Homo sapiens: one gene and its partners. The protein of the gene in region 5 purifies or fractionates together with the protein of the main gene of each other region. This does not show direct contact. Each region holds a gene or a part of one and is shown on either strand. Other genes may lie near its edges. The genes, in order: GALM, ARHGEF28, TKFC, GNA12, AKAP13, PRP4K and DDX42.

Region 1 (4,273 bases), on a different chromosome or scaffold from region 5:
ATTACACTTATAGGGAAGGGAAAACGAACACTTATCGGGTGCCCATTATGAGTCAAGACTCTTTGCTACAAACTTCACAGACACTGTCTATCTGTCTCAAAGCAGACTTAAAGTAGGTAACATCATCCTCATTGAATAATGAAAGAATGGAGGCTCAGTGAGGATAAACCGCTTGCCCCAGGCCACACAGCTAGTGTGTGGCATTGGACTGGATCCTGAGACTGTTCCCTTACTCTATACTATCAGGGGATGAGTTGGCCAGAGATTCCCAGTGCCTTTAGAGAGCTCTGGGATCACTAAAGAAGGGGCCTGTTGCAGGCATGAGACCTCCAACTTGTTGAGTGCTCAATAGTCAATGACCTGGTGCTTTACATAAATCATCTTGCAAGGTAAAGATTTGGTTGCCCAAATGAAATGACCATCATTGTAGGTCAAAACAGTTGAACACTGGCAATTTCATGTGGCTTCAACAAATATTATTTACCTCCATTTTACAGATGAGCAAATTGAGTTCAGTGGAGTTAACTTATACCCACATCTACCTTCTACATTCCTAGTGTGTGTCGGGGGCGGTGGGGAGTTTCATACTACCTGTCCATTGTTTAGAAGGAAAAAAAAATCTTGTTTAAAGTCACACATGTGGCCGGGTGCAGTGGCTCACACTTGTAATCACAGCACTTTGGGAGGCCAAGGCGGGCAGATCACTTGAGGTCAAGAGTTCGAGACAAGCCTGGCCAACATGGTGAAACTTCGTCTCTACTAAAAATACAAAAATTAGCCACGTATGGTGGCTCATGCCTGTAATCCCAGCTACTCGGGAGGTTGAGGCAGGAGAACCACTTGAACCTGGGAAGTGGAGGTTGTAGTGAGCCAAGATTGCGCCACTGCACTCCAGCCTGGGCAACAGAGTGAGACTCCGTGTCAAAAAATAAATAAATAAATAAAGTTATACATGTTATTTGTGACAGAGCTGGGGTTCAAACTCAGGACTGGCTGTCTCCTCTATTCCACATCTTAGTCTCAGTGAAGTTTTTGTCTGAATCTTCCTTTTCAACAGAAGAGTTGAGGCCAAACTCTATGGACTTGAAAGATAATAGCCTCTGTGGGCCACAGGAGTGGTCTCTGAGCCCAGGATCTGTCCACTTTGCTCTCACAGACGTGGCATTTGCCAGGAAGGAGAACCCAGCAGGAACGGAGGTCTCTGCCTTCACCTACAGTGAAGGCAGCTGGTATGTGAAATACTTTCACTGAGCTTAGTGAAAAATTCATTTTACACCCTAGTTAGCTCCCAGAAAGGTTGAACTTTCAAGACACTCAAAATATGAAGCCTGTTATATGTGTAATTAAAAAAGAAATAGAATATCCCAAATGGAACATTTCAGGAATTAAATAATTGAAATGAAATCTTAACTTGCTACCTAGTTTTTCTTTTGTAGAGAAAGGACACAATGGAAAGATTTTTGTGTAAACCAATATGATTGGTTAAGCATAATTCCTATTTATGGAAGGATTTCCCTGAGCCTGTAGTTTCCAAATTTCCAGAAACTCTGCAGCTCTAGATCTTCTTATACCATTTCAAATCCTATTCAACTGTCATCTTAAAAAAAAATGTGTTGGTGGCCGGGTGCGATGGATCATGCCTGTAATCCCAGCACTTTGGGAGGCCGAGGTGGGTGAATCACCTGAGGTCGGGAGTTTGAGACCAGCCTGACCAACAAACCCTGTCTCTACTAAAAATACAAAATTAGCCAGGCATGGTGGCGAATGCCTGTAATCCCAGCTACTTGGGAGGCTGAGGCAGGAGAATTGCTTGAACCCAGGAGGTGGAGGTTGTGGTGAGCTGAGATGGCGCCATTGCACTCCAGCCTGGAAAATGAAAGCAAAACTCTGCCTCAAAAAAAAAAAAAAAAGAGTTCAAAGTCTTTCCCCACCCCTCTCAGGGCCACTGTGCAGTCATTCTCTCCCATATCCATGTATTGAATGAAATGCTATTGGCTCTTCAAGGCCAGTTCCAATCCTATCTCCTAGGCTGCTATTTCATTTGTTCACACATGTTCCTGTCTTCTCTGGCTTGTTATGGTGCTTGTGGCCATTCGCCTTTAACAGTTATCATGTAAGAGTCCATCTCCCTCTTTATACTGTGAGCCTCAGGAGTCCTTGGCCTACTGTGCCCCCTGCTTCACAGAAGGGGCTCAAGGGCACACTGCACTGAAGGCTAGGTACACTCACGATTTTGCTGTGTTCTTGAAGGGAATATAAGTTAAGCAACACCACGGAAAATGCCACAGTGAACAGGGGGAGCAGGGGCAAGCTAGAACGAGGTGCTGTCCTAAGGCTCCTCTGAAGATCCCTGTCTGAAGCCAGGCTGGGCCTTACTTTCTCTGGTTGGGGTTTGCTCATGATCCTGGCATGTTCTAGAGACTCTGCCCTAATACTGGCAGAGCACATGCTGCCCTCTGCCTCCCTGGCATGAAGAATCCCATCACTGAGGAAAGGGAAACCCATGGGGCAGTCAGTCTAGTTCCAGGCCACCAGCAGGAAGCTCATGGAGGCGGGGAAGCCTCCTTCTGCAGGACAAGTGGTGGTTAGAGGCAGAAGAGAAGAAACTGTGGCCATTAGTGGCCATACATGTTCCTGTCTTCTCTGGCTCTTCTCTGGCTCTTCTCTAGCAAATAACCTGGGTGGTATAATTTAAAAGAAAGTTAACTACTGAAATTTACTCCTGCACAGCCTGAAATTAGACTAGTAAGAGAGCAATCACTGGGGTTAACCCATAGACTCCCATGGGGCTAGGAAGCAGGAGGCCAAGCACTCCCACCCCAGGGAGAAGCTGTTCGATCAATTTGCTTTCCTGACCTTGTTTTCTAGGGATCTGCTTAAAGAATGGTCGTTTTCATGTGGAGAGGAGGAACTGGGGAGAATCTGATATGATTTTGAGGCATGAGGCACTTCAGTGGAAGGGCAGGCCTTGGTGCAGCGCCATGCTGCATGGGGCGGGGGGCTTAATGACAGGTACAGGGAAGCATGTTGGACGGGGGCACCCATGCAGCCTGGGTGGACACCAGCAGCTATGGTGTAAGAATGAGTGTTTTGGGCCAGGCAGCCCTGGTTGTCCCACTTAGGAGTCATGTGGCCCTTTATTTATTATTTATTTTTTATTTTTTTGAGACGGACTCTGGCTCTGTTGCCCAGGCTGGAGTGCAGTGGCGTGATCTCAGCTCACTGTAACTTCCACCTCCCACATTCAAGCGATTCTCTTGCCTCAGCCTCCAGAGTAGCTGGGATTACAGGTGGCCGCCACCACACCCAGCTAAGTTTTGTATTTTTCGTAGAGACGGGGTTTTACCATGTTGGCCAGGCTGGTCTTAAACTCCTGACCTCAGGTGACCTGCCCACCTCGGCCTCCCAGAGTGCTGGGATTACAGGCGTGAGCCACTGTGCCTGGCCATGTGGCCTTTCAGTGCCTCGGTTTTCCCATTTAGTGATAACACAGAGTTTTAGTAAGAGTAAGAGATAATATATGTCAATGTCTTGTCCAATAAGTGGAAGATACTGTTATCAATCCACATCTCTTCAACCCGACTCCCTGATCTCAACACTGTGAGAAAGTTGTTTCTCATTTTTCCTAAGTCAAAGGTTGACATCCTTTCTCTTGGGGCTCCCCTGTCTGTTCCAACAGATGAACTAGAGAAGGATGGGTCCTAGCACATGCCCATTGCACCTGCTGCCCTGAACCATGGAAGGGGCCTCTTTCCTGCATCTCACCACTCATGTGCTCTAGGGCCTATGACTGTGCCTGGCAAGCAGAAGGTATGCGTAAAGTGAGCCTAAAGGGAACTCAGTCACATGTGCCGTACTTACTTTATCAAACCCTCTGACTCCTCCATGCAGACTGTTGGGTTCCTTGTTAATGGCCAGGTGATACTCCTTCCCATCCACCTTGAAGGTTCCTTTGGCGATTCGGTTGGCCACCCTCCCAATAACTGCTCCAAAGTATGGCTGCTTTTGGAGGTATCCTGCAAGGACAAGGGATGACAGCACTTTTAAAACTTCAATTCAGGCTGGGCACGGTGGCTCACACCTGTAATCCCAGCACTATGGGAGGCCGAGGCAGGCGGATCACAAGGTCAGGAGATCGAGACCATCCTGGCTAACACGGTGAAACCCTGTCTCTACTAAAAATACAAAAAAATTAGCTGGGCGTGGTGGCCGGCGCCTGTAGTCCCAGCTACTCGGGAGGCTGAGGCAGGAGAATGGCATGAACCTGGGAGGT
Region 2 (3,420 bases), on a different chromosome or scaffold from region 5:
TTGCCTGAGATTACATTTTACCTTGTGATGTAAAAGATTTTATTCACATCACAGTTTAGGAGGCACTTGGTTCATTTTATTATTTTTACTTTTATTTTTATTTTTTGTAGAGACAGGGTCTCACTATGTTGCCCAGGCTGGTCTCAAACTCCTGGCCTGAAGTGATCCTCCTGCCTTGGCTCCGCAAAGTGCTGAGATTACAGGCGTGAACTACCATGCCCAGCCACTTTGTTCATTTTAAATATGACACATAGTTGCATTTTATGCACTGAGATGATAGTCTGGTCTTGAAAATAGCCAACTAGTCAGTTGGCTCAAAAGAATGATGATAATGGTGAGCCAATGGAGGGAAGGCTGATTTCTCTTCACTGTTAGAAATGTCAGTATTGGGTAAACAGAGAAAAGTGTGAAAAATGATAAATGCAAGTTCCAACCAGCAGGTTGCACCTAAGGGCTAAATATTGGGAGATTTAGGAAACTTTCTCTGGATATCAGTGCTGTCTGCAGGTGTGTCTCTTGACAGTCTATTTCCTGTCCCACATGCCCACAAAGAAAAGGAATGGTGCCAGCCAAAATGTGGATACCTGTAATTTTTTGAAACCATGTTAGGAGACTAACTTAGACCCCCCACGGTGGTCCTCATAATGTGAGTATCGAAGTTTCCTGCAGAGGCTGAAATTTTAGTTTGTGAACAAAAGCTCAGTAATGTAGCAGAAAAAACTCTCAATCAAGATCCCACTTTTCTACTTGGTTTAGTCAGGCTTTGGGGCTTTTATGTGTTTTAGCTTATTTGCTCTAAAGGTTAATAATGCTCGCTCTGTTTAGTTTCCAGAGATAATGTTAGGGATCAAATTATTTCTTTTATGTCAAGAGGCAAAATTGTGTTGAGATACTTGGCTGAAATGTTTTTTTGTAGTTTGAGTTTTGTTTCATTATAATAATATTCGTTTTTAGTTGACCAAATTATGATTGTATTGCTATTTCCTTGCTTATTAGAAATATGTTATTACATTTTTATGTCCATCGATTTACAGGCAATTCGATCACAAATGAAACTGGGTGATTACTTTTATATAGCAAGAATTCTGCTTTCTGAGTCAGTGAGGTTTAATATTAACAAATGTTTTTTCAGTTTAGGGTTCTATATGATGATCATATTCTCTAGGGTAAAAAGTGTGGAAAAAGGTGGCTGGCCTTGAGAAATATACAATTGCTGTGCTGGTTCTTTCAGAGTTGAAATGGAGTAACAAAATCAGAAATCACCAAACGGTTTCTAATTTCAAAGACAGACTGTCTGACCTTGCCTACATAGTTCAGGTAGAAACCAAGAAGGAACATGGAGAAGGAAATTGAGTTCCCGTCCAGGTGACATACAACCACAACCACCTCCAGTAATACATCTGGAATTACAACATGGGCTGTTCACCTTAGGGCACAACAAGCTCTCACCTAGGAATGTGTTTCTCCTGTATTTTTATTCTTATTTGAAAAAGTTCTGATTAAACTTCTACACTACACCACACACACACACACACACACACACACACACACACACACAACTCCCCATCCCCATCCCCGTTCATTCTTGGTTCTGTATCTTCTTGAAGTAGAGCATACAATGTAACTTAAAAAAGAGTTATTTCTGATATATATTCAATTTGGCTGTTTTGAACAAGTCTTCTCTTGAAGCCATTAAGGGGATTTTCCATGTACCTCAAAATATCACTATTTTGAATTTTTTGCTCCATGTTTCACACCCCAGATGAAGAAAACCTACATAGATTAAGGGCTTCCAGTGTGTCCGGCATTGTCAGATGTGTCAGCAATGACCTCCCAGCTGCCTCATTCACTGGATGATTTTTCATCCTCAATGTAGTAATTTTTGTGCTCTGGCTGGCCCTTCTGTTGGTAAGGAGGCAGGACTGTTGTGGCTTTGGTGACCTGTTCAGTCTGCCAGTGTCTGCTCGATGGAAATTTGGGGGCATTTTTTTGAAGTTGTATAAAATTAAACATCAGCAATTTAGCTGTGCATATTTGTATTTAGAGGTGAAATAGCTTCAGTCTATGGCTGGGAAAAGGAATTGGAAGTGTGACTGCGTGTTGTGACCACAGGCATGCTTTGTCTCCCAGTGTGGTAAAATAGGATTCAGAGCATTCCAGGTTGATTTGTAATGTTGCCCTGACAAGGAAATCATTGCCTGGGAATATTTTTGTTCGCCCGATTAAGGGAGGTTCCTAGTTCTATAACAATTGCTGTGTCAGTTTTGAGAAGCTTAACATTAATATGTCTTTTTTTTTTTTTTTTGCCTTTGCTTTCTTCTTTTTTTTGGCAAGTGACTCTTCAAAATGTAGTATGTAAGGGAGGGAAAGTATTAAACATTGAGGATCTCTTAATTCAGAAAAGATGGCCAAGCCATTTTCAGCACAAAGAGAAATGAGAAGCACGAGAGTCTTGATCATTAGAGCAAGGAGTCATCACGTGGCTGCCATCCTCTGAGCGTAGATCCAGATCACTTCCTAGCTGCATGATGTGGGTCAGAATTTCACTAGCCTGAGCCTCGGTTTCCCAGCCTGTAAATTGTGGGTTTTAGCATTTTGAGACTTAGAGAGAGATGACGAATGTAAAAGACCTGGGACAACTCCTGTGCTCTGTAAATGGTGGCAGTTAGAGGCACCTTCTGCAGGTATGCTTTCAGTTGTTAGTGAGTTCCTGGAATTTGAGGTACAGCATTTAGGATCAGGGGCAGTAGAATCAAGCTTTGTGCCTATTGGCATCTAAAGGGTCAGGGATGGGCTAAGCCTTTGAGCAGAGCTGTGGTTGCAGCCTCACCCCCATGCCTCCCTACCTCTCTTCCTCCCCTCCCCTGCCTTGAGGGTCCTCCTTTGCTTCAGAGGCACAGTCCAGCCTTGGTGCAGCTCCTCCAGGGACCTTCATCGGCTCCTGTGGCCCTGGCTGCTCCTCCTCCATTGACCCACCTCCTACTGGAAGATGGGATGAAATGAGGTGTGGCAAGGCCACCATGTCCCCAAAGATGGAGCCTTCTGGGAAGAGTTTTCCTTTCATTCCTGCCAAGCCTTGCTTACTGCCTTCTCTAGCAACCAAAGATCCTTGTCAGGAGGGCAAAGGCCACAAGCATTTGTGTCATTGGAATGTCTGCACGTGTGTATATCCATCTAAATAATAGAGGCTTTGAAGAAAATGTGGCGAGGGTTACAATGGCCTCTTTTTTTTCTTTATGTTCTTTAAATTTTTTTTTAATTTTAATTTTTATAAGTTTGTAGTAGGTGTATGTGGCCTCTTCTTAATGACTGAAAAATAAGCAGGTGGGCCTCAGAGCTATTTGCCCTCCTTTCCCACCTGGACTTCCATTCCTACTCAGGTTTTTGTTCTAACACAAGCTGGTTATTTGTAATTTTGCC
Region 3 (4,273 bases), on a different chromosome or scaffold from region 5:
GCCGGCACAGGTAAGCCTGGCATGCAGGAGGGGCTGCGGCAGGGAGGGCACAGTAAGCACACTGAGCCCTTCCGGCTGCTCCCGCAGTGGGGACGCTCCTTATCGTGAAGAACTACACTGGGGATCGGCTCAACTTCGGCCTGGCCCGGGAGCAGGCCCGGGCTGAAGGCATCCCGGTGGAGATGGTGGTGATTGGGGACGACAGCGCCTTCACTGTCCTGAAGAAGGCAGGCCGGCGGGGGCTGTGCGGCACGGTGCTTATACACAAGGTGGGCTTCCACCGGGGACGTGGAGACTGGCCAGCCCTTTCCAGCCTTCCCTTGCCTGGCAGCACCCAGTAACTGGACCTTTCCAGCCCTTCCCCAAGAAGCTAGTTCTTTTTCTCCAGTGTTCCCTGATCTCAGAAGGCCCCGCCATCCCCTCAGCTACCTAAGCCCAGATACAGGCATTTTCCCAGACTCGTCCCCTTTTCTTCTCCACACCCAATCAGTTGCCCGGTCCTGGTGCTTCTCCTCCCAAATGTACAACACACATCCTTCTCAGACCCCGCCCTCCTGCTTTGCCTTGGTTCAGGGGTCATCTACTCATGCCTGATGGCTGCAGCCACCTCCTCACTGGGCTCCCCTGCCTGCTTCCTGCCTTCTGGCCTTGCTCATCCATTCTCCACACTACTGCCAGAGGTGTCTTTTTAAAATGTGTATCTGACTAGGTTATTCATCCACTGAAAGCCTTCTTGGGTGCCTACAATCAATACAAGCCCTCACCATAGCTCCCTGACTCCCCACCTTCATCTCCCATCATCCCTGCCTTCCTCTTTTTTTTATTTTCTTTTATTTATTTTTTATTTATTTATTTATTTTTTGAGGCAGAGTCTCACTCTGTTGCCCAGGCTGGAATGCAGTGGCGCGATCTTGGCTCACTGCAGTCTCCGCTGCCCAGGTTTAAGTGATTCTCCTTCCTCAGCCTCCCGAGTAGCTGGGATTACAAGGCGCCTGCCACCACGCCCGGCTAATTTTTGTATTTTTAGTAGAGATGTGGTTTCACCATGTTGGCCAGGCTGGCCTCGAACTCCTGACCTCAAGTGATCTGCCCGCCTCGGCCTCCCAAAGTGCTGGGATGACGAGCGTGAGCCACCGCGCCCAGCCATCCCTGCCTTCCTCTTTTTTTTTTTTTTTTTTTTTTTTTTTTTTTTTTTTTTTGAGACGGAGTCTCGCTCTGTCGCCCAGGCCGGACTGCGGACTGCAGTGGCGCAATCTCGGCTCACTGCAAGCTCCGCTTCCCGGGTTCACGCCATTCTCCTGCCTCAGCCTCCCGAGTAGCTGGGACTACAGGCGCCCGCCACCGCGCCCGGCTAATTTTTTGTATTTTTAGTAGAGACGGGGTTTCACCTTGTTAGCCAGGATGGTCTCGATCTCCTGACCTCATGATCCACCCGCCTCGGCCTCCCAAAGTGCTGGGATTACAGGCGTGAGCCACCGCGCCCGGCCCCTGCCTTCCTCTTATGGTCTCTTCACGCCAGCTCCTGTACCTGCCAGGCTATGGATCATCTCTGGCTTTGCTTATGCAGTATCTGTGGCCTGGAAAATTCTTTCCTTGTCCAGCCTCCTTTTGGCCTGGCTAACTCCTACCATTCTACAGAGGCCCAGCTCTGATGTCTCCCCACCTGGAAGGCTCTCCCTGATCTCCATCTCCCCACTACCCTGAGCTGGTTGGCAGCCAGTCCTAGTGTGGACTCCATCACTGTAATTACCACCTCACATAAATTTTCAATTTATGGGTATCTGCTTCCCTAGCCTCTCCCCAGGCTGTGAGTTCTTGAAGGTGGAGACTGTGACTTAGTCGCCTTTTTTCCTTTTCAGCATATACTAGATGCTTGGTAAAAATTGGGTGGATGGATGGATGGATAGATGGGTAAAGTGACCCAAAATAGCAAGGCTATGGGAGAGAGAACTCTGGAACTCTAGAGTTGGGAAACTGGCCACCCACTGGCTGTGTGACATTGGACAAGTCACCGCCCCTCTCTGGGTCCATTTCCCCATTTGTAAAGTCTCTTCTGACTCCAACAGACTGGAATTCTTGAAGATTCCTGGCAGGTACACTGTGAATGAGGGGAGTTTGCTCTTCTGCCCTAAATGTGATGGGCCAGGTTGAGTGTGAAAATCCTGAGGTTCCCCCTTCCCAACAAGAAATTCATCCCCTGCCTGTCTTCTACCCCACATGGTACAGTGATACCCTCCCCCCTGGGGCTTTTACCTCTTTGTGGCTGCAGGTGGCAGGTGCTCTGGCTGAGGCTGGTGTGGGGCTGGAGGAGATCGCAAAGCAGGTGAACGTGGTCGCCAAGGCCATGGGTGAGTGCTGGCCTGGGAGCTGGGGAAGAGAGTGGGGAAGGTTGGACAGCCCTGGGGCGAGGAGCAGGTTCCTGTTGGCTGCCTAGCGGTGCTCCCCAGGTTATTCCCCAGGGGTCTAGGGAGTGTATCCCTGGGGGAGCTCCTGGGGACTGGTGGCCTTGGGTACCATGGCTGAGGTGGAGAGTCTGGCAGCCTTTCTCAGAGAAGAGGGTACCTGTGGGCAGGGCCTCTGAGATGCTGCTGCCACCCTTCCTGATGCCCAGTGCTAAGAGTGGAACAGTCATCCCTTCATGCCTTGTTTCTCATAGGTACCCTGGGGGTGAGCTTATCCTCCTGCAGCGTCCCTGGTTCCAAACCCACCTTCGAGCTCTCAGCCGACGAGGTGGAGCTGGGCCTGGGTAAGCTTGTGGCCATCCATCCCAGCCCTGCCTGCTCCTTGGCCCTGGACTTTGCCCACCTTGCATACCCTTAGAGCCATCAACCTGGTCCTCTCCCCAGGTGGTCTTAGTATTTTTACCTGGTCATTTGAGGCCCAGCCTGGGCCAACCTGCCTGATTTCTACCTGCTTTGCTGTCTATACCCACAGCTTTGGCCATGTGGAGCTCTGTGCACTGCCCACCTCCTAGCCTTTGCCTGCCATTCCCAGGTCCTCCTGTCCCTGCCAGAATACACCCTTCTTTCAACGGCTGTTCAAAGATCACCTGGCTGCAAAGCTTTCTTTCCTCGCCTGTGCTTCCTCCTTAACTATCTCTAGTTAAAGCTATCTCCACCACCAGGCCACAAGCTCCCAGAGAACAGAGATCGTGTTTTTCATTATTCTGTCCATTTCCATCCCCCACTCCCGCCCACTTACTGTGTGAGTCCAGCACTGTGTGAGTCCTTGATAAAAACGATGAGCAAATCCCCAGGCCTTGAGTGGGTCAGCAGTGACCACATCTATCCGCAGGGATCCACGGGGAAGCTGGTGTGCGCCGGATAAAGGTAGGTGGTCCCTCTGGCACAGGCCGCCCTAAGGCCAAGGCCCCCCAGATGCAGCTCATTCCTGGCTCCCTCTGACAGATGGCAACCGCCGATGAGATTGTGAAACTCATGCTCGACCACATGACAAACACCACCAACGCGTCCCATGTGCCTGTGCAGCCCGGTGGGTAGCCTCTCGCCCGCGTCTCCCAACCCCTCCTAAACCTCTGGGGAGGAGACGCCCAGAGGGTCTCACCTGGGGTGTCATGTCTACCCGCAGGCTCCTCAGTTGTGATGATGGTCAACAACCTGGGTGGCCTGTCATTCCTGGAACTGGGCATCATAGCCGACGCTACCGTCCGCTCCCTGGGTGAGCCATGCACTGGGAAGGGGATCCTACAGCCCTTTGGAAAGGGCTGAGGGAGGGTCTTGTGATGGCAGAGAACACGGACTGTGCGTCAGATAAGCCTGAGTTAAATCGTCTCTCTGCCACCTAATTGCCGGATACCTTGAGCCTCTGTTTGTTTTCTTGTCTGCAAATTGGGGGTAATAATAATGGTACCTGCTTTATACCGTTGTTTTGAGGATTAAGTGAGATTAAACATATGTAAGACACTCAACACAGCGCCCAGCACCTGGCACGAACTGAGTAAATGAGACCTGTAATTACTCATCTTCCCCGACGTAGGGGACACCTCCAGGGAACGTGGTCATTTGTGGGGTTATTGAGGGATGCCTGCCAGGAGGAAATCAGGACATCTCCCTCCCGACCTCAGAGCCCCAGCTTCCAAGGTCCTTGCTTTTCTGTTGTTTTCTTTCCCTGATGCCCATTTTTCCCTTTTGGACTGCCACACTCTGGTATTGCAGAGGGCCGCGGGGTGAAGATTGCCCGTGCCCTGGTGGGCACCTTCATGTCAGCACTGGAGATGCCTGGCATTTCTCTCACCCTCCTGCTGGTGGATGAG
Region 4 (4,273 bases), on a different chromosome or scaffold from region 5:
CACCAAGACAGACGCACATGGCCGAGAGCAGTGGCTCACACTGTGAGCCTCCCCTTTGGGAGGCCAAAGAGGGAGGACTGCTGGAACACAGGAGTCTGAGACCGGCCTGGGCAACAGAGCAAGACCCTGCTTCTACAAAAAATTAAATCAAATTAAAAACAGCTGGGCTTGGTGGTGGCACACCTGTAGTCTCAGCTGAGCGGGGAGGATTGCTTGAGCCCAGGAGGTCAAGGCTACGGTTATCTATGATTGCTGCACTATATTCTAGGCTGGGCAACAGAGCAAGACCCTGTTTCAAAAAAAAAAAAAGAAAAGAAAAAAGAAAAAAAAGAAAACAGATGTACATAAGCACCACAGAAAGAAGTCTGCTTTCTGCTATCATTCATTTGCAAAGCTACTGGAAAAAAGACAACTGGGCGGGGAGGAGGTGGCAACAATTTCAGAAAATTTCACTGGAAAATGAAGTGTATCAGTAAAAAAACAACTTTTTTTTTTTTTTTTTTCTTAGATGGAGTTTCACTCTTTTTGCCCTGGCCTGGAGTGCAATGGAGTGATCTCGGCTCACTGCAACCTCCGCCTCCCAGGTTCAAGCAATTCTCCTGCCTCAGCCTCCTAAGTAGCTAGGATTACAGGTACCTGCCACCAGGCCCGGCTAATTTTTTATTTTTAGCTGAGATTACAGACCACCACGGACTGCTAATTTTTGTATTTTTAGTAGAGAGGGGGGTTCCACCATGTTGTCCAGCCTGGTCTCGAACTCCTGACCTCAGCTGATCCGCCCGCCTCAGCCTCCCCGCCAAAAAAACAATGTTTTAACAACAACTATAGTAGCCTCCACCCCTTATCCGTGGCATAAGTTCCAAGACCCTCAGTGGATGTCTGAACGGTACCAAGCCCTACCTGTATTGTTTTTAAAGTTTAATTTAATTTATGAATTAGGCACAGTAAGAGATTAATAATAGCTAATAATAAAATACAACAATTATAACAATATACTGTCATGAAAGTTAAGTAAATATGGTCTCTCCTTCTGTCTCTCAAATGTGGTATCACCGTCCGCGCCTATTTTCCGTTGGCGGCTGGCTGTGGATAACGGGAGATGACTGTACTGCCAAGAGTACTACCAGCGCTACTATTGTCATCATCACTGAAATCTGGCAGCTCCTCTATTCCAAAAGATACAACTGCTTCTTCCAGCTTAAAACGGGTGGGAAAACATACAAATCCAGGCAGTCAGCAGTCATGAGACAGGAAAAGACTAAAATACGACAAGCCAAGTAGCCCGCCCACCAAAACGGGAGCCAGGGGATCATGTTCTAGATTTAACGTCACCATCGTTTGTGATGAGAAACTACTTTTCATTCTTTTGCTTGTTTCCTCATTGTTAAAGATAAAGTTAATGTTGTTCTGCCCCTTCTTACCTCATCAACAGGGTCAAAGGGATGAAGAAATAACTAACATAGTATTAGGGAATGCAGCCAGCCTTTGGAAAATATTCTCTCAGCAAAAACAGCACCCCCTGAGCAGTTAGGAGGTCTGTTCCACCATCCTTAGACTAATGTTTCGAAATCAGCAAGGCAGTGTTTATGAGAACTTCTGTGTTCTTCTGAGGGGCACACTGCATACTCTCTGGTATGGTCTACACTGGGGGTATACAGAGTGGTCAAGGGCCCTGAGAAGGCTATCAAGTACACATCTGTCCATCTGGAAAAGCCTTCTCATCTCAGAGCAATCTGAGGGACTCAGGCCAGCTGAGAGCAGCATCCCATCCTCCAGGACAGAGAAAACCAGGGTCACCTGCTCACTAGGCACTTATCTATGTTCCTTTTTTGGAGACTGGGTCTTGCTCTGTCACCCAGGCTGGAGTGCAGTGGCATGAACATGGCTCACTGCAATCTCGACCTTCTGGGCTCAAGTGATCCTTGCCCGTAGCCTCTCAAGGAGCTGGGACCACAGGCATGCCTCGTTACGCCCGGCTAATTTTAAGATTTTCGTAGAGTCAGGGTCTCACTATATTGCCCAGGCTAGTCTCAAACTCCTGAGCTCAACTGATCCTCTGGCCTTAGCCTTCCAAAGCACTAGGAATTACAGGTGTGAGCCACTGCATCCGGCCTTTTTTTTTTTTTCCTTTTTAAATAACAGTTTTACTGTGCTATAATCCATGTACCATATAACTCATCAATTTGAAGTGTACAACTTAATGATTTTTAGTTGGCACTTATCCTAAAAATCTTCATTTCTGACACCCAGGGCAGAGCAGATGAATCCATTCTGCCTCCTTCATCTCTCTCCTGCAGCATCAATTTGGTGCCTATAACTTCCACTTCTGCCTTGAACCACTGAGTCAGACGTAATGATGACCAAAGAGTAGTTGAAAGTCTCCTCCAGACCCAGCTGACCAGGACGGTCTGGTTAGAGATGCTCCCTGATTTTCCCCTCAGGACCTTGTCTGTCTGCCGTTGGAGACCATGCCTAGTTCTACCAATCCACAAACATTTGTTCAGTGTGTTTGTTTGTGGGGGAAACAAACTTTAAGAAGCAGTATCTGACCCCCAGAAACTCAGAGTCTGGCTAGAAAGACAAATGTATGGATAAAAAAAATACTTACCACCCACTCATGATTTTAAAAAACCTTTGCAAACTAGGAACAGAGAAATGCTTCAACTTGATAAAGAACACTGACAAAAAAACATACAGCTAACCTCATAATTAATGTGAAAGACTGAATGCTTTCCCTCCAACACTAGGAAAAGACAAAGATGCCTACTTCTGCTACTGCTATTCAACATGGTTCTGGAAGTTCTAGCCAGTGCGACAAGGTAGGAAAATGAAATAAAAGATCACACAGCTCAGGAAAAGCAGGGGGGAAAACAAATAGATTAGACACACAAAAAAAGAAAACACACAACTAAACCCATTTGCAGATAAAAAGATGATCTATGTTGAAAATCCCAAAGTAATCTACCAAAAAAACTCCTAGAATAAACAAATGAATCCAGAATAGTTGCAGGATATAATGTCAACACACGAAATTCAATTGTCTTTCTATATACTAGCAATGAACATGTGGAAAGTGAAATGAAAGATGTACTACTACTAACTATCACTAAAAAAACGAAACAGGTATAAATCTAACAAAATATGTGTAGGACTTATGTGCTGAAAACTGCAAAATGTTGAGGAAAGAAATTTTCAAAATCTAATAGATATACCACGGTCACGAATTAGAAGATTCAACACGGTACCAATATCCTTAAATTAATAAACAGGTTTAGCACAATTTCCATAAAATCCCAGCAGGATCTTTTGTAGATATAAATATGATTATTTGAAAATTTATATGAAAAAGCATTAAATTAGCTAAAGCAACTTTGAAAAAGAAAAGTGGGAACAATCAGTCTATCTGATTTTAAGACTTATTATATAGCTATGATAATCAAGACTGTGTGGTATTGGTGAGGTGACAGACCCACAGATCAATGGAACATAACAGAGAACCCAGGGATAGCCCCTGATACAGCTAGGTAATTTTTGTAAAAGTGCAAAAGCAATTAAAAAGAGGAAGCCTGGTCTTTTCAACAAACGCTGTTGGAGGAAGTGGACTTCCACAGGTAAAGAAAATTGGGGGGAGCGGGGGAGGGGGTGGGGAAGAACCTTGACCTAAACCTCACAGCTTATACAAAATCAAATCAAAATGTAGAACTATATATAACATAGGAGAATATCTTCAGGATGTAGGGTGTGCTCAAAGTTCTTAGATGTGACTCCAAATACATGATTCACACGAGAAAAATTATCAATAAATTGAACTTGATGAAAACGAAAATATTTTGCTCCGCCAAAGACCCTCTTAAGAGGCTGAAAAGAAGCTATGAACTGGGAGAAAATATTTGCCAACCACACATCTGCCATATCTGACAAAGGACTCATTTAGAATATACAAGGACATTCAAAACTCAACAGTTAGGCCAGGCACAGTAGCTCACGCCTGTAATCCCAACACTTTGTGAGGCTGAGGGGAGAGGATCACTTGGGGCCAGAAGTTCGAGACCAGCCTGGGCAACATAGTGAGACCTCGTCTCTACAAAAATATCAAACAAATTAGGCAGGCATGGTGGCACACGCTGATAGTTCCAGCTACTCAGGAGGCTGAGGCATGAAGATAGCTTGAGCCCAAGAGTTTGAGGTTACAGTGAGCTATGACAGTGCCACTGCACTCCAGCCTGGGTGACAGAGCAAGATCCTGAGATACATACATACATACTCAACAGTT
Region 5 (4,273 bases):
TCTCAAATAATGCATGCTCCCAAAGAAGCCTCTGGCATTGAGCTGACCTTAAATGAAATTACTGTCCAGTGGTTTCCAAATCAAATCAGCTCTGAAATAAACTGGGTGGAAAAATTACCTAAACACAGCCTTTCAGATGTTATGCCCAAGAGAGATGTACACATATGACGTTTATGTTATTCGTAATAAATGCTAACAGGGAGTCTGTAATGTTTTTATGTCTGGCAACAACTTTATCTTGAAGACTTGAGTGGATTATAAAATCTTTTCTGTTTTTTTTAGCTATCTTTGTACCATACAACTATTGATTTAAATATAGTAACACTATATTTAAATGGTACATATCATCGCCACTAAAATAGTTGTAAAAATACTCCTGATTAAATTTGGTTCTTGTTCTTTGGCAACAATCTCAGAAACTGTTGGTTCTTTCATTTTGTAAAGTTAAGCCAAACACAGACAAATATCCTTTTATGCCAGAAATTTAGTTCTAGTTGTTGCATATTTCTGTACCTGAAATGTGTGTCTTCCATTATTCCCAAAACCAATGAAAAAAACCTCTCAGTCCCCCTACGGCTACAACCTTAATGCTAGCTCTGATCTGTAAGTGGTAACATTTAATACTGCTAATACTGCTTTACAGGTCTCAGAATCTTTGGGGAAAGTCCTTCTTTTTCTGTTTTTGAGACAAGGTCTTGCTCTGTCACCCCGGCAGGAGTGCAGTGGTGTCATCTCAGCTCACTGCAACCTCTGCCTCCCAGGCTCACATGATCTGCCTGCCTCAGACCCCCAAGTAGCTGGGACTATAGGCGTACGCCACCATGCCCAGCTAACTTCTGTAGAGCCAGAGTTTCTCCATGTTGCCCAGGCTGGTCTCAAACTCCTGAGCTCAAGTGATCCACCTGTGTTGGCCCTTCCAAAGTGCTGGGATTACAGGCATGAGCCACTGTGCCTGGCCAGGAAAGTTTTTTTTTTTTTGAGACGGAGTCTCGCTCTGTTGCCCAGGCTAGAGTGCAATGGCGTGATCTCGGCTCACTGCAAGCTCCGCCTCCTGGGTTCACGCCATTCTCCTGCCTCAGCCTTCCGAGTAGCTGGGACTACAGGCGCCCGCCACCAGGCCGGCCAATTTTTTGTATTTTTAGTAGAGACAGGGTTTCACCGTGTTAGCCAGGATGGTCTCCATCTCCTGACCTCGTGATCCGCCCGTCTCAGCCTCCCACCAGGAAAGCATTTTTATGTTCTAATTATATCAAGGTTCATTGGAGGAGGGCGGGGACACACACATACAAAACACACACATACACATGCATATACTTAAAAATAAAAGCTTTCTGACTTACCATTAGTTGCTGTTGGATGTTCATAAGTTTAAAAATTGGTCCAGTGCAACCGTCTCCAGGAAATGGGTGTTCATGATGTGAATCAGACTCAGAGGTTAATGTATAGATGTCCAACTCTCGATGATGCCTCACAGAACAGTCTCCATACGGTATTTCATAGGATAAACTGCTCCAGGAGTCTGGTTCTCCAGCATTCTCCCTACATGCAAGCATCTCTGGTTAATATATATACATTCTGCCTCCCAGGCATAGGCTTAACGTTCTAAGTCTTACTTCGTATTTCTAACCTGATTGTTCTTTGAGGTTCAACAGCAAAAATTAGTATATATACCTCCCAAATGATTCAGGCATATAACCAATAGCTCCATCCTCCTCACAAGAGATCACAAATGGGTTAAATGAAAACTGCAGGACTCCTAGCCCTAACAATGTTCTTTAGATCAAGATAAAGAGATATGTGGGATCTAATAATAGTTAATATTATGCTAACAACCAAGTAATGAGGAAGTGCAAGGAAGATGGTTTTAGCCTGATTTTCAACAAAATCAAGGCTTATTAAGAGGTGCTCTTAAAATAAATTAGACCATATGCTAACTACAGTCAATTATAATGGCAAGAGAAGAACCACTCACTCCAACCCTTACAAGGGCACTCCAACTTTTCTAACAATAGGTGCAGAAAACACCCTCAAGATTATTGAAGTCAATTACACAAAGAAAAACTGTTACAATGACATATTGTTCAACACTTGTCAATATAATTATCATATCCTATTTGGAATAAAGCACTTGGTTCCAAGAACTTAAAGTTAAAATTCGTAAAATTTAAAAAACAAGCAAGTTTGCTCAACTCATATCATTATAAACAAATATAACAACTTTCCACCATTATACGCCAACTGATTTGAACAAGGCAAGTGGGTTTCTCCTCTAAAGGCTACAGCACCTCCAATTCCACCCTTGCATCCAGAAGGCATACCCATGCCCGTAATGCCTGCTGTGATACCACACATAATCTGCACTGTGCTTTTTTGCAGCAGATGAAAGAATCTTGGGGCATACAATAAACAGGGATGAGGCACACAATCATACCCCACACAATCTCATATTATTAACTATTGTACTTGAGCACGCATTTCAAGTGTTAAGCACCCTCTTCTACATTCAGCACAAATGTAAATGTCTGAAGTCCTAACCGTTGGTGTCACTATTCTTTCTCATTAGTTTGATACACAGTGTGGTATACAGAGTTAGAGATTTCTGGGTACAAAATTTTATCTCCTAACTATATGATGCTAGACAAATTTCTTAACTTTTCTGAGCCTTAATTTCATAATATGCAAACACAGATATTATAATCTAAGCACTGTTTTGAGAATTAGAGAAAATGTGCATAAAAAACTACATCTATGGTGTTTGACACAGAGAAATCACACACGGATACTGCCTATTCTTCCTCCTTCTACTCTTTCATTCATTTAAAAATAATTCCTAGTAAGCCTTCCCTTCTTAAAAGTAGAAAAACATATCTACTTTTTTCTATTTTTCTACTTGTATCAGAAAATCCTACTTTCTCTGAAAGCTTTAAACATAATGAAAACACTCCTCAAACAGCATTCTGATAAGGTGCCTAGCAGCTCAAAGATCAGGCACAATAATAGATTATGCTTTCCATCAACCCTTTCCTCCTTATATGAAATGTTATTTTTCCTTTCCTTACAACATTAACACCTTTGAATATCCCATATCATATCATATTTATTTATTTATTTATTTATTTATTTTTGAGACAGAGTCCCGCTCTGTCGCCAAGGCTGGAGTGCGGTGGTGCGATCTTGGCTCAATGCAACCTCTAACTCCCAGGTTCATCGATTCTCCTGCCTCAGCCTCCTGAGTAGCTGTGATTACAGGCGCGTCCCACCACGCCCAGCTAATTTTTTTGTATTTTTAGTAGAGACAGGGGTTTTGCCACATTGGCCAGGCTGATCTCGAACTCCTGACCTCAGGTGATCCACCCACCTTGGCCTCCCAACCTATATCACAGTTATTATAATCCCACCAAAGCAAACAATAGATTGGTAAAGTATCCCTGAGATTTTGGGAGGAAGGTTATATTTGAGATCATTATCATGTTTTGAAATAGAAGAAACTAAAGAGTTAAGAAATTACAGACATGCTATCTAGCCACTGAAAAATATGAGAAAGATTACTTCAACTGTCTCTCCAGTTTTTTCTACTAAGTCACACCTGTCTGTCATTAACAATTCACCTGAGACTAATTGGAATTTTAAAGCTAAAAATATGCTACAGTAGCAGCCATAAAAAAGGATGAGTTCATGTCCTTTGTAGAGAAATGGATGAAGCTAGAAACCATCGTTCTCAGCAAACTAACACAGGAACAGAAAACCAAACACCACATGTTTTCACTCATAAGTGGGAGTTGAACAATAAGAACACATGGACACAGGAAGGGGAACATCACACACCGGGGTCGGTCAGGTGGTTGGGGGCTAGGGGAGGGAGAGCATTAGCAGAAATACCTAACGTAGATGATGGGTTGATGGGTGCAGCAAACCTCCACGGCACGTGTATACCTATGTAATAAACCTGCACGTTCTACACATGCATCCCAGAACTTACAGTGTAATAATAAAAAAAAAATTTTTTTTTTAATGCTACAGTGGAAAACGTATAAGGCAATGGAAAATCATGTACTGGCTGACGGTAATAATAATAAAGTGTACTCCAAAAACTACTATTACAACTTCCATACCCAAGAGTGGCTCCCCAAAAGCAGCTTAAAATAAGAATGGCATATGCTATACTACATGTTTTACATATTTTACTAAGTTGCTATACTCTGAGTGAAATGACCTCAAACAGAAAAGCACTTGTAAAATACTCTCGACAGTTCAAAGAAACGACTCAAGAAGT
Region 6 (4,273 bases), on a different chromosome or scaffold from region 5:
CAGTATTGGCTCTAGAGTTTTGTTTTGTTTTGCTTTGTTTTTAAGGTATAAGATGAAATCTGCTCAAAACAAGTGACCTGCTGGGTTTACTGTAGAGACACCAAGTTTCATGAATTTCAAGTGGAGAAGGAGATTAGTCTTCCAGTGTATGTTAATAGTTAGTAGGTCTTATTAAAAAAGAAAACGGGCCCTTTGGTTGTTAATGTGTGAGAAATGTTGGTTTAAAAATTAAGTTACTGAGTGGCTTCTTGTACTAAATCAATGTTAATGAGGTTTTGCTGTGCCTGGTTTGCTTTTCCCTTTTTCTCTAACCTGTACTTTTTAAGCTCACTCCATTAGGGATTTCCTCTAATACTTTTGGTGAGTTCAACCATTAGAAACACAATAAAGTTGTATCACTATCCAACTCAGTTCTTGCCGTAGACCTTCTTTGAAATAAAATGTCTGAAGCTGTTCTGAAAAAATTTTAGTGACTGACTTCATGTATTACATTGAGATGTATTTTCTCATTACTGTTATTTTCTTATGGCTCTTTGAATACTTGATAAATGATATGATTTTAAAATGTGTTTGATATATTTATAGGATGGAAGATGCTAATTCTGAAAAGAGTATAAATGAAGAAAATGGAGAAGTATCAGAAGACCAGTCTCAAAATAAGCACAGTCGTCACAAAAAAAAGAAGCATAAACACAGAAGTAAACATAAGAAACATAAACATTCCTCAGAAGAAGACAAGGATAAAAAACATAAACATAAGCATAAACATAAGAAACACAAAAGAAAAGAGATTATTGATGCTTCTGATAAAGAGGGTATGTCTCCAGCAAAAAGAACTAAACTTGATGATTTAGCTTTGCTAGAAGACTTGGAAAAACAGAGAGCCTTGATTAAGGCCGAACTTGATAATGAGTTAATGGAAGGAAAGGTCCAGTCTGGTATGGGGCTCATTTTGCAAGGTTATGAGTCTGGCTCTGAAGAAGAGGGGGAAATTCATGAAAAGGCAAGAAATGGAAATAGGTCTAGTACTAGATCTTCAAGTACAAAGGGGAAACTTGAACTTGTGGACAATAAAATTACTACAAAGAAACGAAGTAAAAGCAGATCCAAAGAACGGACTAGACATAGGTCTGATAAAAAGAAAAGTAAGGGGGGTATTGAAATCGTTAAAGAGAAAACAACTAGGAGCAAGTCAAAGGAGAGGAAAAAATCTAAAAGCCCATCCAAAAGAAGTAAGTCTCAAGATCAAGCAAGGAAATCAAAATCCCCTACCCTTAGAAGGCGATCTCAAGAGAAAATTGGTAAGGCCAGATCTCCTACTGATGATAAGGTTAAAATTGAAGATAAAAGTAAATCAAAAGATAGGAAAAAATCCCCAATTATAAATGAAAGTAGAAGTCGCGATCGAGGTAAAAAATCCAGATCCCCAGTTGATTTAAGAGGTAAATCCAAAGACAGAAGGTCACGGTCCAAAGAGAGAAAATCAAAACGGTCTGAAACTGATAAAGAAAAGAAGCCAATTAAATCTCCCTCTAAAGATGCTTCATCTGGGAAAGAAAATAGGTCACCCAGCAGAAGACCTGGTCGTAGTCCTAAAAGAAGAAGTTTGTCTCCAAAACCACGTGATAAATCAAGAAGAAGCAGGTCTCCACTTTTGAATGATAGAAGATCTAAGCAGAGCAAATCCCCCTCGCGGACACTGTCTCCTGGGAGAAGAGCCAAGAGCCGATCCTTAGAAAGAAAACGACGAGAACCAGAGAGGAGACGACTTTCTTCTCCAAGGTAACTTGTGTACAAAATGTTAAAGCTTTTTACCAGTGCATGAGATTTTAAACGGAAAACTAGAACTTGTGGACCATTAAAAATGAAGTAGTAAGTAAAAATAAAAATAAATGAAGTAGTAATGAGTTTCATAATTTTAAGTAACCCAATCCATTAACCATGTTAATATTTGCACTTTTTTCGATGAGTATTTTAAGTATAGGTGTTTAACAAATACTGAGCTTGATGATAGAATTGGGTTTTTTCACATTCTTGATTTAATACCTAGTTTGCTAAGGCACTCCTTTCAATCCATGTAATTTGGCTGATAAATCTTCATTGGGGGCGTTTAGAGAGAGGATTATTACTTCATGAACAGTGTAGGCTGAAACTCTTAACTTTGAAAAGGGGGAAAGGTAATCAGTTTAACAATTGTGTTCTGTTCATTCTCTTGTATTTGCATGAGTTTTAAATTTTAACAGTATAAATAGAAACCAATACCAATATTTTTTGGTCCCCAAAGTATAATTAAAATGGAAAATTTTGTATTAATACATATAATCTCATTGTTGAAAAGTAGTATCTCTTAAGCTTAAGAAGAATAGTATATGAAATTATTTTGTACTATTTGAATAATATATTGTCTTAGTTCTTATAAATCCTCATGTGATTATCTTAACTCATGAGGTGAAGGGGCTCTCATACCTAATTTATAAATGAAATAGAATCAGAGAATGTATATAATTTACGTAGGATCATAGAACGGAAGTATTTGCGGGGAGGAGTGTTTATACCACTTAAACTACTTTAGAAACAGATTTCTTAATGTCTTTTTTGTATTTAGTATTTAAGTATTATGAAATTGCCAGCTAGGTTTTGCTTATTAAAAGAGTATTGGCTTATACTATATAAGGATGTTATTAATTCCTAGCCGTTTACTGTGTTCATAATAATATTTTCTGTGAATGGGTATAAATATAAACTCACCCTGAAAGTGAAGTCATCATATTTTCAGAGAAATTTCAAATTTTATTTCCAAGTGCTGTGTCTTAAGAGCGTCTTGATTCTTTACTTCTGAGTGGCACTGTAATGAAATAGCCCCTTTTTCCTTTGGCTTCCTGGATTGAGGCAGTGATTAGTTTTACTGATTCTGTTATCTCAAGTGCTTCTTAATTATCTTGGTGGTCTTTCAGTTTGCTTTGTTTGAAGAGCAAATTCTGAGGAGTTTATTAAGGACTAGAGCTGAGTATTTGAAACAAAAATATTTTTTTAAATTACAGAAGTGATGCATACTTACTTATTAAAGAGAAATCCAAATAAGCCTGTAAATTGTCTCCCTTTTCATTTCTCCACTACCACTCCTTAGAAATTTACTTTATCTTAGGTCTTTCCTTGTACAGACAATAACATGAATATAAGGGAATTTTTTTTTTTAACAAAACTGGAGTCATATTATTCATATTCACATGTGGCTTGCTTTTTTCAGGAAACATTTCTGCGACAAAACATATAGATTGTTTTTCATTCTGCCTGACAGCAACTGGTATTTCAGTGTAGATGTATTATAGTATCATTCTCCTATTGAAACTGATGAAAAATTTAGGTTGGTTCCAGTTTTTCACTATTATATGCGAAGATGTGCCTTGGTTATATGTGAGGTTTCTTTATAGAATAGACTCATAGAAGTGGACTTGCAAAGTCTCAGAGTATGTACATTTACATTGTAGAAAGTTATTGCTAAATTTCCATCCAGGAAAGTTAGGTCAATTTCTACTTCTACTTCTATGACTATGTGAACTGCCCCTTTTCCTGAAACTGTATTAGGAAAGTTTAGGAAAACCTTTATTACCAGGATACCATATAGTATTTTGTCACTCTTAAAAACAGAACAAAAAACCCAAAAATTGTTTTAATCGAAATTTCTTAGGTGACTAGTGAGGGTGAACATTTTTATTTTCTTTATTTTTATTTATTTATTTTATTTTATTTTATTTTTTGAGATGGGGTCTTGCTCTGTTGCCAGGCTGGAGTGCAGTGGCGTGGTCTCGGCTCACTGCAACCTCTGCCTCCTGGGTTCAAGCGATTCTCCTGCCTCAGCCTCCCAAGTAGCTGGGATTACAGACACGCACCACCATGCCCAGCTAATTTTTGTATTTTTAGTAGAGACAGGGTTTCACCATGTTGGCCAGGCTGGTCTTGAACTTCTGACCTCGTGATCCGCCCACCTCGGCCTCCCAAAGTGTTGGGATTACAGGCCTGAGCCACTGTTTATTTTCATTGCATTTTAGCAGACAACACTCTGTTCTTTTTATACTAGTTTACTTTATCCCATCCATTTATATATACATATATATACACATATATGTGTGTTGTTTTTGTTTTGTTTTGTTTTGTTTTTTTGAGATGGAGTCTCGCTCTGTCGCCCAGGCTGGAGTGCAGTGGTGTGATCTTGGCTCACTGCAACCTCTGCCTCCTGGGTTCAAGCAATTCTCCTGCCTCAGCTTCCCCGAGT
Region 7 (4,273 bases), on a different chromosome or scaffold from region 5:
GGGTTCAAGCAATCCTCTTGCCTCAGCCTCCTGAGCAGCTAGGACTACAGGCGTGTGCCACCATGCCTGGCTAATTTTTTAAATTTTTTTGTAAAGACAGGGTTTTATTGTGTTGCCCAGGCTGGTCTCAAACTCGTGGCCTTAAGTGATCCTCCCACCTTGGCCTCCCAAAGGGCGAGGATTACAGGTGTGAGCCACCTTGCCCAGCCAGCCATAGGATTTAGTGCCTAGAACCATACCAAATAGGACTTGATGCCATCTTGACTGTTTCTCTTCAGCCTAGTTGTAGATCTCCTTTAGTCTTTTACATATTGAATAAATGAGTATCTAATATTGAAAACATGCTATAAGAGAAAAGTGAATAAGCCTGTTTCTTCAGCCATGAATCCTATAATACGGAGTTGGACTGGAAAGGGAGTTTGAGGAAGGAGATGCCATTTCTTTTTCTTTCTTTTTTTTTTTTTTTGAGACGGAGTCTCACTCTGTCGCCCAGGCTGGAGTGCAGTGGCGCGATCTTGGCTCACTGCAAGCTCCGTCTCCCGGGTTCAAGTGATTCTCCTGCCTCAGCCTCCGGAGTAGCTGGGACTACAGGTGCCCACCACCACGCCTGGCTAATTTTTTTGTATCTTTAATAGAGATGGGGTTTCAGCATGTTAGCCAGGATTGTCTCGATCTCCTGACTTCGTGATCCACCCGTCTCGGCCTCCCAAAGTGCTGAGATTACAGGCGTGAGCCACCGTGCCCAGCCAGGAGATGCCATTTCTTTGGGGATATCATATTCATGTCTTTAGGAGTTGGTATTTGAGATATGCTTTGAAGGATAGGACTTTGGTAGGTACTCACAGTTTATAGGAAAGAGATTTGATGTGAAGGGGATCCAGTTAGAGGGAAGAGGATTCACTAGAGTGCTTGTTTTCCTGGAAAACTGAGTACGTGTGGAGAGACCCTGGGAAATATGAATGGTAAAGTAGTTTGATGCCACAATGGAGGGTCTCATTCCAGCATGATTAACTGTGGAGAGCTATGGAATTGAGGAGAGTGACATAATCAGAAATGTGTGTTCTGGAAGAACCTGGAAAGGGTTTTCGATAAGCATCTGAATACTGACCTCCCTTCTGTGAGACTTTTTCTGGTTCCACGGTATTAACACACACTATGCTACTCTACCAAAGGAGGTAAAACTTGCTTTTCTCTTTTCACTGTGTGTCTCACTATTACTTCATCATTTTATGCTTTACTAAACAGAATCACTTCTCATAGACTATGGAAGATTTGCTGGTTTTAGATGAAGCATCTGGATGTACATCCACATTACTTTTCCAATAAAACAGACATTCTTGGGACAGTAGTCAGGGGAGGATTACCTGTCAAATGTCATTCATCTCAGAGAGGCCTTGCCTGACTTAAGTCTGCAATAGCTTGCCTCTTACCCTCTTGCTTGCTTTTCATAGCACTTTTGCTACCTGGAATTACATGATTTAGTTTTTCTTTCTCCTGGGCCAGACTGTGAACTCTGAGTATGGCTGCATCTGATTCCATTACTGTATCCTTAGCACCTTAGAGCAGTTACTGGCACAAAATAGGCACTCAGTATATTTTGACTTAGTGATCACTCTAGTAGTGCTGTGAGAGCTTGATAATAAAGTTTTTTTTTTTTTTAAGACAGCATCTCGCTCTGTTATCCAGGCTGGAGTGCAGTGGCACGATCTCGGCTCACTGCAGCCTCCGTGTCCTGGGTTCAAGAGATTCTCCTGCCTCAGCCTCCTAAGTAGCTGGAACTATGGGTGCGCGCCATCACGCCTGGCTAATTTTTGTATTTTTAGTAGAGATGGGGTTTCACCATGTTGGCCAGGATGGTCTTGATCTCCTGACCTTGTGATCCGTCCACCTCGGCCTCCCAATAATCAGAAATTTTTTTTTAGGAAATAATTGCAATAGTGGAGGTGGAGATGGAAAGGCGGGTATACGTGAGGGATGTCCCTCATAGTACTGGGCACATAACAAAATCATCAGTGGTTATTGGTCAGTATAAAACAATGGATGTTATTACTAAGAACCACTTAGGGTTGTTCTTTTTTAAACAAATACTCATTAAACTTTGTTTATGGCTCTATTCAGCTAATTCTTTTCAAATTAGGTATTTCAAAAGGGTTCTTTTTTAAATTTTTATTTTTTGGCACCCCAGCAGGAAATGAAGAAATCTTTTTTAAGAGAAAAAATACAAAAATGCAGTTGAATTTCCCCAAGTGTGTTTTTTTTGTTTGTTTTGGTTTTGTTTTTTTGAGACGCAGTCTCACTCTGTCACCCAGGCTGGAGTGCATTGGCATGATCTCGGCCCACTGCAACCTCCGACTCCTGGGTTCAGGCCATCCTCCCACCTCAACCTCCCGAGTAGCTGGGGCTACAGGTGCACACCACCACACCTGGGTAATTTTTGTATTTTTTGTAGAAATCAGGTCTTTCATTGTTGTCCAGGCTGACCTCTAACTCCTGAGCTCGAGCCATCCTCCTGCCTTGGCTTCCCAAAGTGCTGGGACTGCAGTTGTGAGCCACTGTGCCCACCTCATTTTGTTTTCTTCTTTTGGTACTATCACCACAATCTAGCCACAGGACACTTTTCATCTTGTAAAACTGAAATTCTGTACCCATTAAACAATAACACCCTATTCTCCCCTCCTCGCAGCCCCTGGCAACCACTCTTCTACTCTGTGTCTCTGAGTTTGACTATTCTAGGTATCTCTTTTTTTTTTCTTTTTGTTTTCTTTGTAGAGATGGGGTCTCGCTGTGTTGCCCAGGCTGGTCTCAAACTCCTGGCCTCAAGCCATCCTCCTGCTTCCCAGAGTACTGGGAATATAGGCGTAAGCCACTGCATCTGCCTCTTTTATTTTTTTAGTAACCAAATAGAAATTTGGGTGGCTATCTTTTGCTTCTTCTGTCAGCTATACTCCCACAAATCTCTGTGATTGTCAAGGTTCAGTAACCATATACACTACATGGTTTAATAGTAGGAAAAACTGCCGGGCACGGTGGCTCACGCCTGTAATCCCAGCACTTTGGGAGGCCAAGGCAGGCAGATCACCGGCGGTCGGGAGTTTGAGACCAGCCTGACCAACATGGAGAAACCCCATCTCTCCTAAAAATACAAAATTAGCCAGGCGTGGTGGCACATGCCTGTAATTCCAGCTACTTGGGAGGCTGAGGCAGGAGAATCACTTCAACCTGGGAGGCGGAGGTTGTGGTGAGCTGAGATTGCGCCATTGCACTCCAGCCTGGGCAACAAGAGCGAAACTGTCTCAAAAAAACAAAAAAAAAAAAAAGTAGGAAAAACTGTTGTCAAGAGACTTAAGTAATGATCCATTGAGGATGATCTGGCTTAGATTTAATCAGGAAGGGTGGTTAGCTAGATAACAAGGTTTGTAGTAATAAAATAGAGTTTTCATAAATACTGGGATGAATTTTGGAGAGCCTGAATACATTACATTTATTCATACAGCAAAATTTTTTGAGTACTATGCAGACACCAAGGATATAGTGCTGGACAAATTGAGTCAAGTCTATGCCCTCATAGAGCTAACATTCTACTCAGGGTATATAGAAAGCACAGTTCCTTGGCCTTCCTAGAGTCAGTAATTGAGGGACAATGAGCTGTGTGTTCTAGATGAGCTAGGGAAAGGATCGCTTTTCCAACTTGCTAAGTCTTGAGAGCCAGTAAGCAACCCTCACCTGCCCAAGGTCTCACTGCCTGCCTGTTTGTGGCAGGAGTTGATTTGCTGCTTTTGTAATATGAACCTTTTGATTATTTAATAGGGCTGATTCATAGTCATGTTTGTTCTTTTCACTCCTTCCCTCTAGCTTTGGGGGAAGAGTGAGTTACTCCTGTTGTTAAAAGTTTTGATTGTGTCTGGTCTTCTCTGGAAATCCTATGACTTTTTTCTGTCATTTTGCATCTTCAGTTTTTCAGACTTTACTGGTTTTTCCCCTTTAGCATATAAACATGCCTATGTTTCTTTAAAAAATAAAATTTCTGTAGGTAATGCTTCACTTTCTCCTTCCTATCATTGATAAACAGCCTACAAAGTACTCTTGACTCCTCTTGACCTAGTCTTCATCTTCTACTACTTACTTGCCAGGTACTCCTCAACCCTGTCCCTACTGCTCCATTGAAACTGCTTTCACTGATGACTCCTGGTTGCCTATACAACAGAAGAATTTTAGTTCTTTTTGTTTTGTTTTTTTGAGACAGAGTCTCGCACTCTCGCCCAGGCTGGAGTGT

The links.
Region 1: the proteins of AKAP13 (region 5) and GALM purify together in Homo sapiens (affinity purification with mass spectrometry; one large-scale study listed by BioGRID and IntAct). This does not show direct contact.
Region 2: the proteins of AKAP13 (region 5) and ARHGEF28 purify together in Homo sapiens (co-immunoprecipitation; one large-scale study listed by IntAct). This does not show direct contact.
Region 3: the proteins of AKAP13 (region 5) and TKFC purify together in Homo sapiens (affinity purification with mass spectrometry; one large-scale study listed by BioGRID and IntAct). This does not show direct contact.
Region 4: the proteins of AKAP13 (region 5) and GNA12 purify together in Homo sapiens (affinity purification with western blotting, with the first as the bait; one study listed by BioGRID). This does not show direct contact.
Region 6: the proteins of AKAP13 (region 5) and PRP4K purify together in Homo sapiens (affinity purification with mass spectrometry, with the first as the bait; one large-scale study listed by BioGRID). This does not show direct contact.
Region 7: the proteins of AKAP13 (region 5) and DDX42 purify together in Homo sapiens (affinity purification with mass spectrometry, with the first as the bait; one large-scale study listed by BioGRID). This does not show direct contact.

Annotation. Positions count from the first base shown.
Region 1 is NC_000002.12:38,675,655-38,679,927, reverse strand, and holds part of GALM (galactose mutarotase), read right to left. Parts: intron 4,017-4,273; coding exon 3,862-4,016; intron 1-3,861. UniProt on the Homo sapiens protein: Mutarotase that catalyzes the interconversion of beta-D-galactose and alpha-D-galactose during galactose metabolism.
Region 2 is NC_000005.10:73,936,643-73,940,062, forward strand, and holds part of ARHGEF28 (rho guanine nucleotide exchange factor 28), read left to right. Parts: intron 1-3,420. UniProt on the Homo sapiens protein: Functions as a RHOA-specific guanine nucleotide exchange factor regulating signaling pathways downstream of integrins and growth factor receptors. Functions in axonal branching, synapse formation and dendritic morphogenesis.
Region 3 is NC_000011.10:61,339,167-61,343,439, forward strand, and holds part of TKFC (triokinase/FMN cyclase), read left to right. Parts: coding exon 1-10; intron 11-87; coding exon 88-269; intron 270-2,269; coding exon 2,270-2,348; intron 2,349-2,656; coding exon 2,657-2,746; intron 2,747-3,294; coding exon 3,295-3,329; intron 3,330-3,407; coding exon 3,408-3,492; intron 3,493-3,588; coding exon 3,589-3,678; intron 3,679-4,175; coding exon 4,176-4,273.
Region 4 is NC_000007.14:2,795,332-2,799,604, forward strand, and holds part of GNA12 (guanine nucleotide-binding protein subunit alpha-12), read right to left. Parts: intron 1-4,273. UniProt on the Homo sapiens protein: Guanine nucleotide-binding proteins (G proteins) are involved as modulators or transducers in various transmembrane signaling systems. Activates effector molecule RhoA by binding and activating RhoGEFs (ARHGEF12/LARG).
Region 5 is NC_000015.10:85,572,397-85,576,669, reverse strand, and holds part of AKAP13 (A-kinase anchor protein 13), read right to left. Parts: intron 1,540-4,273; coding exon 1,341-1,539; intron 1-1,340. UniProt on the Homo sapiens protein: Scaffold protein that plays an important role in assembling signaling complexes downstream of several types of G protein-coupled receptors.
Region 6 is NC_000006.12:4,030,974-4,035,246, forward strand, and holds part of PRP4K (serine/threonine-protein kinase PRP4 homolog), read left to right. Parts: intron 1-585; coding exon 586-1,782; intron 1,783-4,273. UniProt on the Homo sapiens protein: Serine/threonine kinase involved in spliceosomal assembly as well as mitosis and signaling regulation. Connects chromatin mediated regulation of transcription and pre-mRNA splicing.
Region 7 is NC_000017.11:63,777,000-63,781,272, forward strand, and holds part of DDX42 (ATP-dependent RNA helicase DDX42), read left to right. Parts: intron 1-4,273. UniProt on the Homo sapiens protein: ATP-dependent RNA helicase that binds to partially double-stranded RNAs (dsRNAs) in order to unwind RNA secondary structures. Unwinding is promoted in the presence of single-strand binding proteins.